3 linked regions of the Homo sapiens genome follow. The protein of the gene in region 2 binds, or shares a complex with, the protein of the main gene of each other region. Each region holds a gene or a part of one and is shown on either strand. Other genes may lie near its edges.

The links. Proteins that work in one complex are often made in the same cells at the same time.
Region 1: DKC1 (region 2) and NHP2 share a complex: the UniProt entries of both Homo sapiens proteins name them as parts of the H/ACA small nucleolar ribonucleoprotein (H/ACA snoRNP) complex.
Region 3: DKC1 (region 2) and WRAP53 share a complex: the UniProt entries of both Homo sapiens proteins name them as parts of the telomerase holoenzyme complex.

What each region holds. Positions count from the first base shown.
Region 1 is NC_000005.10:178,150,886-178,158,438, forward strand, and holds the start of NHP2 (H/ACA ribonucleoprotein complex subunit 2), read right to left. Parts: upstream 3,001-7,553; 5' UTR 2,933-3,000; coding exon 2,773-2,932; intron 2,676-2,772; coding exon 2,606-2,675; intron 109-2,605; coding exon 3-108; intron 1-2. UniProt on the Homo sapiens protein: Required for ribosome biogenesis and telomere maintenance. Part of the H/ACA small nucleolar ribonucleoprotein (H/ACA snoRNP) complex, which catalyzes pseudouridylation of rRNA.
Region 2 is NC_000023.11:154,772,843-154,778,201, reverse strand, and holds the end of DKC1 (H/ACA ribonucleoprotein complex subunit DKC1), read right to left. Parts: intron 5,072-5,359; coding exon 4,953-5,071; intron 3,601-4,952; coding exon 3,497-3,600; coding exon of another isoform or gene 3,493-3,496; exon of another isoform or gene 3,008-3,492; coding exon 2,929-3,007; intron 2,016-2,928; coding exon 1,878-2,015; intron 1,404-1,877; coding exon 1,335-1,403; 3' UTR 513-1,334; downstream 1-512.
Region 3 is NC_000017.11:7,698,444-7,704,002, reverse strand, and holds the end of WRAP53 (telomerase Cajal body protein 1), read right to left. Parts: intron 3,263-5,559; coding exon 3,174-3,262; intron 2,545-3,173; coding exon 2,454-2,544; intron 2,347-2,453; coding exon 2,214-2,346; intron 1,660-2,213; coding exon 1,451-1,659; intron 1,261-1,450; coding exon 1,157-1,260; intron 1,011-1,156; coding exon 876-1,010; intron 761-875; coding exon 517-760; 3' UTR 501-516; downstream 1-500. UniProt on the Homo sapiens protein: RNA chaperone that plays a key role in telomere maintenance and RNA localization to Cajal bodies. Specifically recognizes and binds the Cajal body box (CAB box) present in both small Cajal body RNAs (scaRNAs) and telomerase RNA template component (TERC).

The DNA.
Region 1 (7,553 bases), on a different chromosome or scaffold from region 2:
ACCGTCTTAGAGGGGATATAGACATAGGGCAAATTTCGGTCCTCACACATGACTGGGAGATGGCAGTATACCTCAATGGGCAGTGTGTCTCCTGCCAAAACCATGATCCTGAAATGAGAGAAAACACTGTCATCTCTGGCTTGCTCCTTCCTTCTTTCAGTTTTAAGTGCTGCCCTGGGCTGGGTCTTAGGGATAGAGACAAAATTGTGTTTGGTGAGCACACTATTTGGGGGTGATCTCTACCTCTTGGCAACATACAGGTGCCACCAAAGTGATGTAGTGCTCGGACAGGTGAAGTACAGGATGGGTGCCAAGGTGTATGAGCTCAGCTCTCTTTGGAGAGTCAAAAAAGGGTTCAACCAGGAGGTGACACTTGAACAGCACGCTGATGGATGACTGTGTGGCAGGCAGCCCACGGAGGGGCTGGGGCGGGGGAGAGCATGTGGTGTGAGAATCAGAACGGCACCAGACACAGCCGAGAGACTGGCAGGGGACACCCCCAAGACCTTGAGTACCAGGCTAAGAAGCATGGGCTCTGTCCCAAGAGTGACAGTGAGGCAATGAAAGCTTGCCAGAGACTCAGCCAGGGTTCCTAGCTGGCCAGGTGTCAAGGCTGGGGGGCAAGGGCCTCAGGAGCCTAAGACACAGAAGGAAAAGTCTGCTCTCCCATGCTGGATAACAGGCGGACACACAAGGACAGAGCCCTCGGCTGAAAGAATGCTTCCGCACTCCTAGTGCTCCTCTGGGCCCTCTGCTGGCTCCCCTTCTGTTAAGCGCCTTTCACTGTGAGTGTTCCTCACAGCCTTGTCCTCGGCTGCCCTCTCCTCTCAGGACCTTCTTCCTGGCTGACCGGAGCCACTGCCATGGGGTCAGGTGCCATCTATGTGCTGAAAACTCCCAGATGTACTATCTCCAGCCTGGCCCTCTCTCTTCCATGCTCCAAACCCCTATAGCCATCTGCCTGTTTGACAGTTCTCCTGGTGTGGGGCGGGGTGGAAGTCATGTGTCTCTACAGCACCTCAAAAACTTACCCAGACCCAAATTTGTGATCTTTCTACACAAATCTGGTCCCCCTCCACTGTTCACATCTCAAGATTGGGCCCTCTGTCCCTCCAGCTGGGCATGTCAGAACCTAGAAGTCGTCAATACCTCCCCATTCTCCACATCTGAAAGTCCTTTCAAATCTGTCCCCTTTAACTCTGTCTCCACCATCACCTCTCCAGGACTACAGTAGTCTACTACCTGAACTTTCCCAAACCTACTCGTACCTCTCTAATCCTTTCTTCAATTGTCAGAAAAATCTTAGGGTGTAAAAAATAATAAAAATTATGTCACTTCCTGGCTTTAACCCCTAATAGCCTCCAAAGTGCTGAGTATAAAAACTAAATTTACTGTGTCCTACAAGGCCCCCTAAGAAGGTAGCACTTCTGCTCACCAGACCCTCTCCTGCCCAGAGGCCCACTCTTTCTTCTGGCAGAATCCTCCCACCCACCCCCCAATTAATCCCTGTGTCTTAAGACCTCAGCTCAAATGTGACTGCTGAGGGAAACTTCCCCAGATGCGCCCTCCCCAGCTAGGTTAGATGCCGTTGAGCATCAAGTCTGCCCAACATTATTGATCTCTTGAGCACCTACAGTTTCACTTCTTGGGATAAAGCAAGGAGGCCCTGTTCTGAAGGAGCTTACCATCTGGCCTGAGAGGGTGATAAAGGGAAGAAAAATGTAAACAAGGTTCAAACTTTGATAAATGCCATTAAGAAAAGTGGGGTGATGAAGTTATCATTGCACTCTGTTATTTTCCTTCATGGCTATCTATCACAACGTGTAATTAGTTGTGTGTGTGTCATTATCTGATGAATGAATGTCACTGTTTCCCCCATAACACAGTGCCTGAAAAAGAGTACATTCAATTGTTAAGGCTGCCAGGCGCGGTGGCTCATGCCTGTAATCCCAACGCTTCGGGAGGCTGAGGCAGGAGGATTCCTTGAGCCCAGGAGTTCAAGACCAGCCCGGGCAACATGGCGAGACTCCTCTGTCTCTGCAAAACAACAATAACAACAGCCAGGCGTGGCGCAAGCCGGTGGTCTCAGCTATTCGGGAGGCTGAGGTGGGAGGATCGCTTGAGCCCAGGGGGACGAGGCTGCAGCGAGCTGTGATCGCACCACCGCACTCCAACCTGGGTGAGAGCTAGACCCATCTCAAAAACAAACAAAAACGTTAACGTTCAGTTCCTTAAATACAGAGCCGGAGAGGGGTCATCCCTAGGACTGAGATTCAGGGCTGAGAGGATTAGGGCGGGGGCCGGAGGTAATCTGAGGCAAGGAGCGGAGCCCGGGGAGGAGGGTCCCTGAATTAATGAAGGTGGGTTTACTCTAAGGGACTTTGCTTACACAATTCGCTTCACTTTGGAATTCACTTTGAGCTGGTATACGTGGTGTACCGGTATTGTCGTACCGGTATTGTACCAAAGGGACTTTACCGACTGCTTGATTGGCTTCTGTATATGGGGCTAGGTCAGAGTTAACCTTTTTACTGCGCGCCTACTAAGTAGAGATTTCTCCGTTAACGTTTAGAAATGCAAAATCCAGAGGAAGGAAGGTTCTTACCCTTTTTCTCCTTTGTTGACAAATTTCTGAACCTCTTTCACCCCGCGCCGAATCTGCTTCTGCTTCACCGCTGCAACGACAGAAGAGTCGGTCGGGGGCCTCGCTCAGCCACCCGCGCACCCATCCCACCCGCGCACCCATCCCGGCCACGCCGCCGTCCGCCTCACCTTTCTTGATGCATTTGTAGAGCTTCCGCGTGAGGCGGCGAGAAGCCAGGGGCTGCGCGATGGGGTTCTGGTTGACCAGCAGCTCCTGGTAGGTGCGCTCCCCGGAACACGCCTCCGCCTGAGCCTCGGGCCCGTCGGGATCTGCCTTTATTTTGGTCATCGCAGCGGCCGCTGAAACCTAGTCCCAGGGAGGCGAGCCCACGCGGTCCACAGCTTTAGGCATCACTTCCAGGTCATCAGCTGCGCGAGAAGCCGCCGTACAACACGGCCAATCAGGAAAGGAAGTCTCCGACTCAGCCCAATCGTTGACGCCCAGCTTCGTAACTACGGAGAGCGGAGAGGGGCGGAGTCATGGTCCTTAAGGCGGGGCCATCCCCGGACCAAGGGACTGGGCGGAACCGATTAGGGCGGAGCGGAGGGAATGTGAGGCAAGGGGCGGAGCCCTGGGAATCGGGGCCGGAGAGGGCGGGGCTCTGGGTGCTGGAAAGGCTGCCTCGTTTTTTTTCTTTTTTGAGGCAGAGTTTCGCTCTTATTGCCCAGGCTGGGGTACAGTGGCGCAATCTCGACTCACTGCAACCTCCGCCTCCCGGGTTCAAGCGATTCTCCTACTTCAGCCTCCCGAGTAGCTGGGATTGCAGGCATGCGCCACCACGCCCAGATAATTTTGTATTTTTACTAGAGACAGGGGTTCTCCATGTTGGTCAGGCTGGTCTTGAACTCCTGACCTCAGGCGATCCGCCCGCCTCGGCCTCCCAAAGTGCTGGGATTACAGGCGTGAGCCACCGCGCCCGGCCTAAGGCTGCCTCCTTTCTTGCATAATTTTTCTTTGTTTTCTGACCCCTGGACCCGGCTGCGCAGGTGTGAAAGATACAGAGCAAGGGATGACCCCACTGACCTGCGTCTGCACCGCTTTTCCACAGATAGCGTGTGGCTCACTCTCATCCCGCAGGGTTCCGTTTCAGTGTTTCCCATGGGAGAGGTTTCCCTGGTGATTTTATCTAAAATTGCCGTCCCCTCTCTCTCCAAACCAGCATCCCTTCACCCGCTATTTTCCCGCAGTTCTTACCATTGCCTGACGCTACACATGCAGAGGGCCTAGCCGAGAAGCCAGCCGGGGCTGAGGGAAGGACGGCTCCAGCGAAGCCGGGAACAGCGGAGGGAAGGCTTTGGGGACTGAGCTCCCTGCCGTGCAGGGTGAGAGCTATGAGGAGCTACCCTTTGGACGGGTCTGTAGAAGGTAAAGGGACAGAGCTGCCAGGGCGTGGGGGGCGGTGGCAGGCCGAGATCCAGTGGATCTTGGTATCTCTGATTAGCCTCTTCCACTATATTTTGGAACTCTGGATGGATATTAATTAGATAATCGCTGCAAATTACTAATTTGTAATACTAATTACCTTTGATCCTGATGTGGCAGGCCTGCCATTTTTGTGTTGCTGGAACAGGCCAGTAAGTAGAAACTTAGAAGTGTTCCGGTAGTTGTGGGTGGGAACACAGGTCAGTTAAACCAACTTAAAAATTGGCCTTTCCCGGGTGTGGTGACTCGTGCCTGTGGTTCCAGCTACCCGGGAGGCTGAGAGGGGGCTCGCTTGAGCCCAGAAGTTAGAGGCTTCAGTGAGCCATGACTGCACCTGTGAATAGCCACTGCACTCCAGTCTGGGCCACCCAGGAAAATCTTGTCTCTAAAACAAAACAACAACAACAAAAACCTTGTAACTCTGAACTAAAGTGCAATAAATTTTGTTTTGCATTAAATAAAAACAAATAGGCTGGGCGCGGTGCCTGTAATCCCAGCACTTTGGGAGGCCGAGGCGGGCAGATCATGAGGTCAGGAGATCGAGACCATCCTGGCTAACACGGTGAAACCCCCGTCTCTACTAAAAATCACTCTGTCCAGCAGAGTGATGGAGAATTTCACTCCTGAGAACCCAGTTCAAACAAATTCAAACAAATGGGCTCGCTTGACTGACCTCACTCAGAGCCTCGGTTGTGAAGTCCCTTCAGCTCTTACATGGAAGGAAAAAGAAAGTTAACATTTATGTGGCGAGCATATTATATACAATATCTCATTCAGTGCTCACCAAAAAATACCTCTATGGTAAAGGTAAAGACTTTACCATCCTTTTACCAGGAATATATAACTTTATATTCACAATTTACTGACACACATAAAGATGAATAGTTTGGTACAGCTCACACAAAGCTGGATTTGAACCCAGGTCCACTTGTCTCCAAGCCCAGACTTTACCCATACCTGTGATTTGACATTTGACTTCAGCTCAAAAGGATACGTAAATAGTGAAAGTGTAGGAACCTCAGCTTGGCCCAGGTCACACGTGTCTGCATTTTGAGCCATAAGACAATGAAGTGCTGAGAACAAATATGTCTTCAGAAAACCACAGTGTTTTCTTTTTCTTTTTTTTTCTTTTTTTTTTTTTTGAGATGGAGTCTCGCACTTTGGCCCAGGCTGGAGTGCAGTGGCACCATCTCGGCTCACTGCAAGCTCCGCCTCCCAGGTTCACGCCATTCTCCTGCCTCAGCCTGCCAAGTAGCTGGGACTACAGGTGCCCACCACCACATCCGGCTAATTTTTTGTATTTTTAGTAGAGACGGGGTTTCACTAGGGTTTCACCGTGTTAGCCAGGATGGTCTCGATCTCCTGACCTCATGTTCTGCCCGCCTCGGCCTCCCAAAGTGCTGGGATTACAGGCATGAGCCACCGCGCCCGGCCCCCTTTTTTTTTTAAGACAGAGTCTCCCTTTGTCACCCAGGCTGTGGCATGATCTCAGCTCACTGCAATATCTGCCTCCCAGATTCAAGTGATCCTACTGCCTCAGCCTCCCAAGTAGCTGGGATTACAGGCACCCGCCACCATGCCCAGCTAATTTTTGTACTTTTAGGAGAGATAGGGTTTTACCATGTTGGCCAGGCTGGCCTCGAACTCCTGACCTCAAGTGATCCACTCGCCTTGGCCTCCCAAAGTGTTGGGATTACAGATGTAAGCCACCGCACCTGGCCTGTTTTCTTTTTTTGTTGTTAACACACTGTGTATTTCTTATCTTTTTTTTTTTTTGAGACGGAGTCTCGCTCTGTCACCCAGGCTGGAGTATAGTGGCCCCATCTTGGCTCACTGCAAGCTCTGCCTCCTGGAATCACGCCATTCTCCTGCCTCAGCCTCCCGAGTAGCTGGGACTACTGGTGCCTGCCACTACACCTAGCTAATTTTTGTTGGTTTGTTTGTTTGTTTGAGACAGAGTCTCACTCTGTCGCCCAGGCTGGAGTGCAGTGGCACGATCTTGGCTCACCACAACCTCCACCACCCGGGTTCAAGCGATTCTCCTGCCTCAGCCTCCCGAGTAGCTGGGATTACAGACGCCTGCCACTGCACCCAGCTAATTTTTGTAGTTTTAGTAGAGACGGGGTTTCACCATCTTGGCCAAGCTGGTCTTGAACTCATGACCTCATGATCCACCCGCCTCGGCCTCCCAAAGTGCTGGGATTACAGGTGTGAGCCACTGCGCCCGGCCACGCCCAGCTAATTTTTGTATTTTGAGTAGAGACGGGGTTTCACTGTGTTATTCAGGATGGTCTCGATCTCTGACCTTGTGATCTGCCTGCCTGGGCCTCCCAAAGTGCTGGGATTACAGGTGTGAGCCACTGCGCCCAGCCAACACATTGTGTATTTCTAAAGCCAGACTCAGAAATCTGTTCTGAACCCAGGTTGTTTTGCATGACTTTATTACTTTATGGATTTTGTTGGAATGGCTATTTGAGCTTACTTTTTTGTTTCTTTTTTCTTTTTTTTTTGAGATGGAGTCTCGCTCTGTTGCCCCAGCTGGAGTGCAGTAGCGCAATCTCGGCTCACTGCAACCTCTGCCTCCCGGGTTCAAGCGAGTCTCATGCCTCAGCCTCCCAAGTAGCTGGGATTACAGGCATGCACCACCACACCTGGCTAACTTTTGTATTTTAGTAGAGACAGAGGTTCACCATGTTGGCCAGGCTGGTCTCAAACTCCTGACCTCACGTGATCTGCCTACCTCGAACTCCCAAAGTGCTGGGATTACAGGTGTGAGCTACTGTGCCCAGCTGAGTTTACTTTAAGCAGTGTACAGTGGCTGATAACATAAAAATTAATGGACACTGGTCCAGAGCTCTAAATGACAAATGACTTTAGGCAAGTCATTTAGCCTCTCTGGGCGTCAGTGCTTCACCATAAAGTGAGAAAGTTAGATCTAGATGGACTAAGGTCCATCTTTTAAAAAATTGGAGAGGATTTATTTATTTATTTATTTATTTATTTATTTATTTATTTATTTTGAGACGGAGTCTTGCTCTGTCACCCAGGTTGGAGTGCAGTGGCACGATCTCAGCTCACTGCAAGCTCCGCCTCCCGGGTTCACGCCATTCTCCTGCCTCAGCCTCTTGAGTAGCTGGGACTACAGGCACCCGCCACCACGCCTGGCTAATTTTTTGTATTTTTAGTAGAGACGGGGTTTCACTGTGTTAGCCAGGATGGTCTCGATCTCCTGACCTCGTGATCCACCCGCCTCGGCCTCCCAAAGTGCTAGGATTACAGGCGTGAGCCACCGCGCCCGGCCAGGAGAGAATCTCTTGAGCCCAGGAGATCGAGACTAACCTGCAGGAGGACCACCTGAGTCTGGGAGATCAAGGCTGTGGGGAGCTGTGATTGTGCCAATGAACTCCAGCCAGGGTGACACAGTGAGACCCCCACCTCAAAAAAAAAAAAAAAAAAAGAAAAGAAAAAAGAAACGCTGTACCCTTTA
Region 2 (5,359 bases):
GGATTCTCCTGCCTCAGCCTCCCGAGTAGCTGGGATTACAGGCACACGCCACCACACCTGGCTAATTTTTGTATTTGTAGTAGAGATGGGTTTTGCCATGTTGGCCCAGGCTGGTCTCAGACTCCTGACCTCGGGTGATCTGCCCGCCTCAGCCTCCCAAAGCACTGGGATTATAGGTGTGAGCCATTGCACCCGGCCTCTTTCTTGGTTCTTAATACCAAATCGGAAGCAACCCTAGACCTTTCTTCCACTAATCTGTCACCAAGGCCTTCAGATTCCTGCATGTCCCCACCCTCAGCTTCGTTCTCCCGACTCACCCTGCCCCCCGCTCCTGCCAGGCCCACTATGTATAAATACATTAACCCTCTCCTTCTCTGTTCTTCTAGAGATCAGTGGTTTTGTGGTAATCACTGCCTCTGAGTACTTGATCTCACATCAGATGACAGGGCCCAAGGTGGATTGTGTAAGATACAGAACAAAAATGTAAAAACCAGAAAACAAACATAAAAGCATCACATTTCAAATAGGACATAAAGGTCCCTAGATTTTTAATCAAAATATTTTACAATTTTTGCTCTGCTAGCATGAGATCAACAAGAAAACCCAACAGGAATACATAAAAAACTTAACAAGTTGACTTTAATAAGTAAAAATTACAACATTCTTCTCCCAGCAATGAACAATTTCATTTTTTAAAAGTAAACGAGGCCTAAAACAAGAGGGCACAGGAACAAGTAGTCAGATGGATTTAGGTGAGCACTGTACACAAGCTTTGAGGAAGTGCAAAGGACTGACCTCTAGGCCAGAACAAGATGGAAAACTACCAGGCCCATCAGGCCTATAACCCAGACACCAGCATGGACAAAACTCAGTTATACTGAATTCAGAGACAAAATTCAGTGACACTCTTCTACCACTTATTTAGGGTTCTACAGCATTTCACTGAGCAGACTTAGTTTTTTGTTTTTGTTTTACAAACCTTTTAAACAGAGGGGATTTAAAAAATGCAAACTAGGACTACGATGTTAAGACAACCACTAGCAGACAGCTGCGGACAGTTACTGGGTCTGAAGGTGAGGCTTCCCAACTCAAACAGAGAAGTCATTGGGATAAACTCTGCCTCTTTCATCTTTCACCACCCATATCCTTAAAACAGGACAAGATGGGATGACCACACCAGGTAACATCACCGAGGTCTCAAAGTAGCAGCTAAAATGTGCCAGAACTCTTCACCCTGTCTAGGACCTATGTTCCACTCTCTCAGCAACAAAAGGATCTATAACATGTTTTCTCAATAAGGCTTTAGTTTCTCCTCCAGCTTCAAGTGGCCTTCACTACTCAGAAACCAATTCTACCTCTTTTGCTTTCTTCTTCTTCTTCTTCTTCTTGGTGGTATCACTGTCCTAGAAAGAAAGAGAATGAAAGCTCACAGATACCATCCACTAACAAAGCTATGACTCTCCCAGAAGGAAATCTGGTAAAGGTCCACAGTCAAGCAAGCCTTTTTCAGGACCTGTAAGGATATTTTGGGTTAAATGCTGCATGTGACACAAAGTTCTGTAAACCTTTCAGTGACACCCTAGTGGTCTACTTTTGGAAGTGGAAACATTCAGATCACCATCCTACACATCCTCTCCACCCACCATCAATAGAGCTCTAAGTATAAGTGGTAGAGGTCGGGTGCCTCTATCTGTCCATTCCACAGGGAGGGCAAAAGCACTCCAGGAACATGGGGAAGCACTAAAGGCACTCGGTGGCATCCCACCCCCAGGCCACAGCTCCTCCAAGAAGAGTAACAAAGCTGGTACCACCTGGGTAATTCTTTCCCCACGCAGGGACTAAGCCAGCCCAAGGAACCTGAACGTGTTTCCACACACCCCATCTCCAGGCTCGGCCCCGCTCTCCAGACCAGCTTTGGCCTTCTTGTCCTTCTTACTCTTCTTCTTTTCCTTCTTGATCAACTGAGGAGCTGCTGGAGGAGTCTCGTCACTTTCACTCTCACTCTCTCGCTTCCGCTGAGATGAAAGCAATTGGTTAAGTGTTAGATCTTGGGCAATAATGGACAAGAAAGGTTCAGTGAGTCAAAAGGTAGCAAGGCACCAAGAAAGATCCCAACTGAATCTAACAGGACGTTTTCTGACTACAAACCCGGACAGGGCCTTAGTTTACTGAGGATTTGAAGACAGTCTCATCCCCCAAATCCAAGAAGCCTTGAGGCAGGCACAAGAGAAGGAGCACAGCAGCAGCACGGGGCTTGGGGTGGAAAGGCCCGGAGGAGCTGTTTCTCTCATGACTGCAAGGACCTCTCACAGAAAGCAGGCAAAGCAGGAATTCACATCTGACAAGTCAGAAGCTCCTCCCACACAGCCTGTGCAGGATACTCAGTACCGCCCCCGGTTTCTGAGTGCAGACCTGTCATTCTGTGCTCTAATGCCAGCAGCTCCATGGGGTGGAGTTGCCAACCCATGCTTGACTGACTCTTTCAACACTGGGTGGTGCCAGGTTAAGATGCAATTCTGCTCTCTGCTGAATTTTGTATGGCCTCGAATGTCCAACAGCCATGGCCTCTGATTTCAACACATCTGTCCTACCATTTGACCCAGGGCGGGGGCCAGAATTGACACACACACCACCACCCATTCCATCACTGTGTTGCTGCCATAGCTGAGGTAGGAGTCGAGGCCCATCTGATTCCTGAGCCCACATTCCTCCTCCCAGCAGATAGGACAGAGAATACAAATCAGAGGAGCCTGCAGAGCCCAAACAAGCACCCCAGGGTATGAGGCAGCATTACCTGTGTATGCGCTGCACCTCTGATGCTAGCGTATATGGCTGGACTGCGGACAGTCACAAAGTAAGACGAATGCCAGTGCCTCTTAGGATTATCTCCCTAAGCACATTCCAAACTGAGGACAGCATGCCACTCACCTTCGCAGTTTTTGCTGCTTCGGCAACTACCTGCGGGGCTTTTACCACTTCAGCAACCACCTCTTTTTTGGCAGACTCACTGAAAAAGAGGTAGCAATAGGTCAAATTCACTGAATGGCTTTCCAGGGCAGTACTGATGTTATGTAGTGTTATCTGGCAAGTCTAAAGCCACCATCAAAATACTGACGCTGGACAGAAGAACTCACCACTTACTGTTGCAGACTGACTCCCTCTAGAGTCCCACGAGCCAGACTAGAAAGGGATAACTGTCTGCCGTGCAGGCCCACACCCCTAACTGGCCTGGGCAGCCAAAATCTCACGGGAGCTGAAGAGCTGGTTCCTGTGGTCCTGCATTTAGCAAGTTTGCCCCAAACCAAGTGACTCCCCCTCCCCTGGGCTCTACAACCTCCATGCTCACCTGTTCCTCACCTGTTGTCCATGTACTCCTGCGTCCAGATGGCAAGTGGGCTCTACCTTCCCATCCTCACCTGTTGTTGACATACTCCTGCATCAAGGCAGCAAGTGTGCCGTCTCTACCCACCCCGGCTCTGAAACATCCTGCCCTCACCTGTAGTCAACATACTCCTGCTTCCAGGTGGCAGGTGTGCTGTCTGTGGGCTTCCCATGCTTGTCCAGAAGGCCCTGCTTGATCATCAGCTTCTTCTGACTTGCCTGGTGGAACATCAAGGTGTCAACATTAGAATGGTGTCAATGCTGGAAGCGGGCATGGTGACTACAAAGAATAGAACAAGGTTCCTCCCTGGTGTATTCTCAGCAGGGCCTCAAACTCCTCTCCAGAGCATTCAGAATTTGCCCACTAACTCCAACACACACAGGACTTGTTGAAGATCACAAAGCTTATTAGTGAGAGCCTCTGCAGACATAACGTCCCCACCGCAGCCACTCTACTTTTTTGCCTTTGCACATGCTGCTTGCTCCCAATGCCCTGAACTCTCCCCTCCCCTCTTCACTTCACCAACACCTAACCCACTCTTCACACCGGTGTGGCTTAACAGACAATCCCTTGACCAGACTCCTTGACCACTGTGGACACTCCAGGTGACAGACACCTCTCTGCACTCCTTGGTAGCCACTAACGTGCATGAAATTCGCCATTCCACTGTGTGATTACGTGAGTAATGCCCAACTGTTTCCCCTCATTAGACTGAAATCTCTAAGGCCCAAGACAGGGCCTGTTTCCACTCATCGACAACCCAGAGCCCAGCACAATACAAGGCTGTGGTGGTGAAACACACCAAGAGCTGCCCAAGTATTCAACAATGCCAAACAAAAGAACCTGGCAGGAGCCGCCCCATCCGGGAGGGAGGTGGGGGGGGGTCAGCCCCCCCGCCCGGCCAGCCGCCCCGTCCGGGAGGTGAGGGGCGCCTCTGCCCGGCCGCCCCTACTGGGAAGTGAGGAGCCCCTCTGCCCGGCCGCCACCCCGTCTGGGAGGTGTGCCCAACAGCTCATTGAGAACGGGCCAGGATGGCAATGGCGGTTTTGTGGAATAGAAAGGCGGGAAAGGTGGGGAAAAGATTGAGAAATCGGATGGTTGCCGTGTCTGTGTGGAGAGAAGTAGACATGGGAGACTTTTCATTTTGTTCTGCACTAAGAAAAACTCTTCTGCCTTGGGATCCTGTTGATCTGTGACCTTACCCCCAACCCTGTGCTCTCTGAAACATGTGCTGTGTCCACTCAGGGTTAAATGGATTAAGGGCGGTGCAAGATGTGCTTTGTTAAACAGATGCTTGAAGGCAGCATGCTCCTTAAGAGTCATCACCACTCCCTAATCTCAAGTAATCAGGGACACAGACACTGCGGAAGGCCGCAGGGTCCTCTGCCTAGGAAAACCAGAGACCTTTGTTCACTTGTTTATCTGCTGACCTTCCCTCCACTATTGTCCCATGACCCTGCCAAATCCCCCTCTGTGAGAAACACCCAAGAATTATCAATAAAAAAATAAATTTAAAAAAAAAAAAAAAAAAAAAAGAACCTGGCAGGGCACGCAACCCAGTACCACTTACCTTTGGACCTAAACCCCACTTCCGAGGGTAAGTGTCTCTCTCCATGATCACTCTCTTGATCTTGGCTACTATACCATGGTCGCAGGTAGAGATGACCGCTGTGGTCATTAATGCAATAGCTACAGGCATTGAATAAAGAAAAGAATTATTTGAAGGGTGAAAGAATTGATAATTGATGAGCCCCAATTCTACTGTTGTATGCCACTTTAAAACTTTTAAAACTCTGAGCTACTACTTTAATTGGGGTTACCTTTGCTCAGGATGTGCATATGGAGGAAATACTCCATTATGAGAAGGAGGCCTTTGAAATGACGTTAAACTTCTGAAGTTAAAAAACACCTAACCAAAGCACCTAACGATACACATAACAGGCTTGCAGCTCAAGACGTCTATAAGAACGGCATGCA
Region 3 (5,559 bases), on a different chromosome or scaffold from region 2:
TGGCAACTGGGTTGTCTGCCTCCTGGGGAGCCCCGGGGAGCGGAGGAGAGTGCTCCTGCTCCCCTCAGAGCTGAGTAATGGTCCCCATGCTGCTGGAGAATGGCAAACAGTGTGGAGTGTGGGCGACAGGCGCCCTGTCACTGTCTGCACAGTCTCACACGGTCACACCCAACAGTCTGACCCAGCTCCTGCTCAGCCCCGCTCACCCTGACCCCTGCCGCCCCCACCTTGGGAGTGAGATTTCAAACAGGTTTCCCCCTTCAGTTTACCAAGTTGCCTAGCAACCAACCAGTCAATGGCATGAAGCCCCACCCCCACCCACTTGACTTCACACCAAGCTCAGCCGCCCCATTGGCTCCTGCCTGGTCCCACCTCTCAACGCCTGGTTTCAGGACCAATATGCCATACCCACTGCTGCTGGACCAGGGAGCCCGCCAGTCCCCCTGCCTGGTCCCCCACCTCACTCATATGCCCCCCCAAAACAGACACGAAGACTCTAGTATCATAAAAACCTTTTTATATCAGCTCACCCACACCTCCCTCCGTTCCTCCCTGCCCTTTCTCGCCCTGGTGATCATCAGGGATGCTGGAGTCTGGCGCCCCCCCACACCACCAGAGCTGAAGCCGACATTCAAGGTGGACGTGGCGCGTGGAGAGCAAGGGAAGGCCCAGCTCCTCTCCTTCGTCCCCACTCTCTGTGGGCTCAGGAAACACACGCTGACCGGAGGCAGTGGCCAGGAGAGGCAGGCTAGGGTGCAGGCTGAGGGAGAGATGGGGAGGGTCTATCAGTGCCTTCAGTGAGGACACTTGCTCCCTCTGGGATTCACCTCCCTCCCCAACCCAAGCCCCAACATCTCTGGAATTGAACTGAGGACCTCACGCCATTGGTGCAGTCCTTCTGGGGCAGAAAACTCAACACGGGCTCCGGCTTCCCATCATTGCCAGGCCCGTCCGTGTCCCACACAGAGACAGCCCCGCTCGTGCTGCCACTCACTAGGAACTGCCCGGTCCTGCGAGAGAGAGGAGAGATTTGCTGGCAGAGGCCTCACCCCTGGGGCAGGAACCCCTCACACCCAGGGACTGGGACCCTACAGCTGGGCTCTGGCATTCCTAGGCTTATCAGGGCCCTGTGTAGGAAGGAGTCACAGCCACTCACGGGTCCAGATCGAAGTAGATGCGCTGATTGGTGGTCACCTCTCGACCCAGGGACCACAGTGGGTAACCAGACTGCCGGAGATCCCAGCACAGGAGCTCAGCATCCTGGAGACAAGGAACAGGACCTGGAGTCACCCCCAAAGCCCTGGATGTCCCTGCCTCCCTCGGGGTCTCCAGGCACTCCTTCAGCTTGGGATTTTTTCCCCATCCCCACCCATTCCCCTACACTGCAGACTACATCCCTGCTCCTGCCCCGCTGCCCAGCTGCTTTGGGCTCTCAGGGTGTGACCCCTACCTTGCGGGCTCCTGAGAAGAAGCGGTTGCCATCGGGATGAAAGCAGAGGTGGGTGATGCCCCCTTGGTGCCCTCCCAGCAAGGCGAGAGGGGAGCCATCATCCCAGGCATACAGACCCAGGGAGCGGCCGTAGGAGCCACAGGCATAGAGGGGCTGGGCTGGGCTGAAGGCTATGCAGGAGATGATGCCGCTCTGGCCCTGCTTTTTTGCTAGAGAGGGAAGGAACAAAGTGGGGGAGGGGGCAATGGCTCCTGGCACTAACCAGGCTAAGCAGAGGTCTGTCTCCCGTCCCAGCACCAACATGCTTGGACTCAACATCCCCCCCATGCTGTCTGTCACAAGCAGGACAAAGACCTCTGATGCTCCCCACATCTATCCTCCCAAAGGACCTAAATGCCCAAGCCCCACTTCATCCCTCTCAAATCCCAGTTCTTCCTTGGAGAGATGCAAGTTGAAGGCCTACAGGAAAACGGAATCAGCTTTATCAACAATTTTCTAGAAAGATTTCAGAGACCAAAAGCTCCACAGCTGACAGGGTATGAGTTCAGGAAGGAAGCAGTCCTTTGACCAGCTGGTTGGCCTTGGGAAGGTTTCCTACCTGCTCTGAGCCTGTTTGCTCCTCTGCCGACTGGGCTGCACCTGCTCCCGGGGCCGTACAGAGGACGGCGTGAACCCCCACAGGTGGCCCCCGGCTCACAAAAGGCCCCTGTGCAGGTGGCAGTGCCCTTCCCTCTCCTCCTCCCTTGGAGGCACAGATGCTTACCAAATGTGGCTCGGACCTCGCAGTCTCGGCCAGGCCGGGCCGTGGAAAAAACACGCACAGTCCGGTTGAAGCCACAGAAGAGCTGGGAGCCATCCGGGGAGAAGCAGAGCGAATGGGCTGCCGTCAGCTCATCCTGGGGGAAGGAAAGGGCTGAAAACAGGTCTTGCAAAGCCTCAGCTGCCCTCAAGGAAGGAGAGCCGGGCCAGTACGAGTGCTGGGGCTGAGTATGGCGGTCCCTACCAGGTGGTTGTAGGCGCGAAAGGAAGCCCGGAGCTCTCCAGTGAATGCGTCCCAGATATGAATCGGGTTCTCCCGGCTGCTGCTGGCCACGCTGAGAGAGACATGGACACTGAAACCCCGGTGCTGTCAAAGGAAGGGGAGGAATGGCCGGGCACAGTGGCTCATGCCTGTAATCCCAGCACTTTGGGAGGCCAAGGCAGGTGGATCACTTGAGGTCAGGAGTTCGAGACCAGCCTGGCCAACATGGTGAAACCCTGTCTCTACTAAAAATACAAAAATGAGGCTGGGTGTGGTGGCTCATGCCTGTAATCCAAGCACTTCAGGAGGCCAAGGCAGGTGGATCACCTGAGGTCAGTTCGAGACCAGCCTGGCCAACGTGGTGAAACCCCATCTCTATGAAAAATACACAATTAGCTGGGTGTGGTGGTGCACACCTGTAATCCCAGCTACTCAGGAGGCTGAGGCAGGAGAATCACTTCAACCTGGGAGGCGGAGGTTGCAGTGAGCTGAGACTGCATCACCGCCCTCCAGCCTGGGTGACAGAGGGAGACTCAATCTAAAAAAAAAAAAAGGAAGGGGAGGAAGCCAACTGACCAGCCCCTCTGATAAGCATGCCAAGCCTTCCTCCTCCAAAGACCCCTGGCAGCCCTTGACTCTCCCAAGAGGCCCTGCTTGAAACTGGGTGGTGGGGCGGCGAGCAGGGAGGCAAACATTACTTACTAGGAGGTGTCTGGCTGGGCTGAGGACATCAGAGAATACCAGCAGTAATCATAGATGGTATCACCTTCCACCATTCGAAGGACAGGGACCTATACAGAGACGGGGGAATGGCTGAGTCACTCGGAGGGAAAAGGAGTCTGAGGCGCGTGCCTCTAGCAGTGTTGTGGCAGATGGGGTGTATATATGGAGCACAGACTCTGTCTCAATGTTCAAGGGTGAGCTCAGACTTTAATGTCAAATTTAGCCACCAAAAGCCATATAGATTCATACTTTTTTTTTTTTATTATTTTGAGACAGAGCATGCACCACCATGCCTGGCTAATTTTGTTTTTGTTTTTTTTTTTAATAGAGACAGGGTTTCACCATGATGTTGGCCAGGCTGGTCTCAAACTTCTGACCTCAGGTGATCCACCCGCCTCAGCCTCCAAAAGTGCTGGGATTACAGGTGTGAGCCACCGTGCCGGGCCTTATACTTTTTCTTTATAAACACTTAGAGAGGAAGAAACAAATAATAATACCTCAACCCAGAGACAAAGAACCAACCAATTATTCAAATACTTACTGAGTACATGCTAGGTGCCATTTGATCCTTTAAAAAAATATTAGTACAAAAATTTGCCAGGCGTGGTGGTGGACACCTGTAATCCCAGATACTCAGGAGGCTGAGGCAGGAGAATCCCTTGAACCCAGGAGACAAAGGTTGCAGTGAGCTGAGATCGCACCACTGCACTCCACCCTAGGTGACAGAGAGACAGTGCCCCCCAAAAAAAAAAGAAAAAGAAAAGAAAAAAATTATCGGCTGAGCACAGTGGCTCACACCTGTAATCCCAGCACTTAGGGAGGCTGAGGCAGGCAGATCACTTGAGCCCAGGAGTTCAAGACCAGCCTGGGCAATATGGTGAAACACTGTCTCTACAAGAAAAAAAAATTAGCTGGGCATGGTAGTGCATGCCTGTAGTCCCAGCTACTAGGGAGGCTGAGGCATGAGAATTGCTTGAGCCCAGGAGATAGAGACCACAGTGAGCTGAGATCATTGCCACTGCACTCCAGCCTGGGCAACAGAAACACTGTCTCAAAAATACAAAAATGGAAACAAAAAAACCTCCTTACAAAAATAAAGAAAAAAAATTAAACAGTTCAAACATACAAAGTATCTTATTAAAAAAACAGCCCTGTGACCCCTCCATCCAGCTGAACAAAAAGATATGTTTAAACCCCTTTCCTAACAGAAACTCTCCCTCAGAGGTAAACACTATCTTGAATTTATCACTGTCATACATTTCCTTAGGAATATATATATATATATAAATATATATATATATATATAAATATATATATATATATATATATATAAATATATATATATATATAAATATATATATATATATAAATTTTTTTTTTTTAATTTTAAAGGCAGAGTCTCACTCTGTCACCCAGGCTGAGTGCAGTGGCACGATCTCAGTTCACTGCAACCTCCACCTCCCAGGTTCAAGCAATTCTTGTGTCTCAGCCTCCCGAGTAGCTGGGATTGCAGGAGTTCACCTCCATGCTCAGCTAATTTTTTGTATTTTTAGTATAGACAGGGTTTCGCCACGTTGGCCAGGCTGGTCTCGAACTCTTGGCCTCAAGTGATCTTTCTGCCTCAGCCTCCCAAAGTGCTGGGATTACAGGTGTGAGCCACTGCGCCCAGCCTAGGAGTATATTCATATGGGAAAAAAAACAGTATCTAACGTTGTCTTGCAGGTCTTTAGACTTAATTTTTTCTTTTCTTAGAGACAGGGTCTTACTCTGTTGCCTAGGCTGGAGCACAGTGGCGCAATCATCTCACTGAAACCTCAAACTCCTGGGCTCAAGCAAACAATCCCCTGGCCTCAGCCTCCCTAGTAACTGGGAATATAAGCATAAGCCACCATACCTGGCTTATTTATTTATTTATTTATTTATTTATTTATTTTTGACGGAGTCTCGCTCTGTCGCCCAGGCTGGAATGCAGTGGCACAATCTTGGCTCACTGCAACCTCTGCCTCCCAGACTCAAGCAATTCTCTGCCTCAGCCTCCTGAGTAGCTACGATTACAGGCGCCTGCTATCACGCCCGGCTAATTTTTTTGTATTTTTAGTAGAGACGGGGTTTCACCATCTTGGCCAGGCTGGTCTTGAACTCCTGACCTCGTGATCCACCCACCTCAGTCTCCCAAGTGCTGGGATTACAGGCATGAGACACCACGCCCAGCCTGCCCGGCTAATCTTTAAAATTATTTTTTTGTAGAAACAGGGGTCTGTGTTGCTCACGCTGGTCTAAAACTCCTGGCCTCAAGCAATCCAGCCACCTCAGCCTTTCAATGCACTGGGATTACAAGCATGAGCCACCATGCCCGGCCTAGACT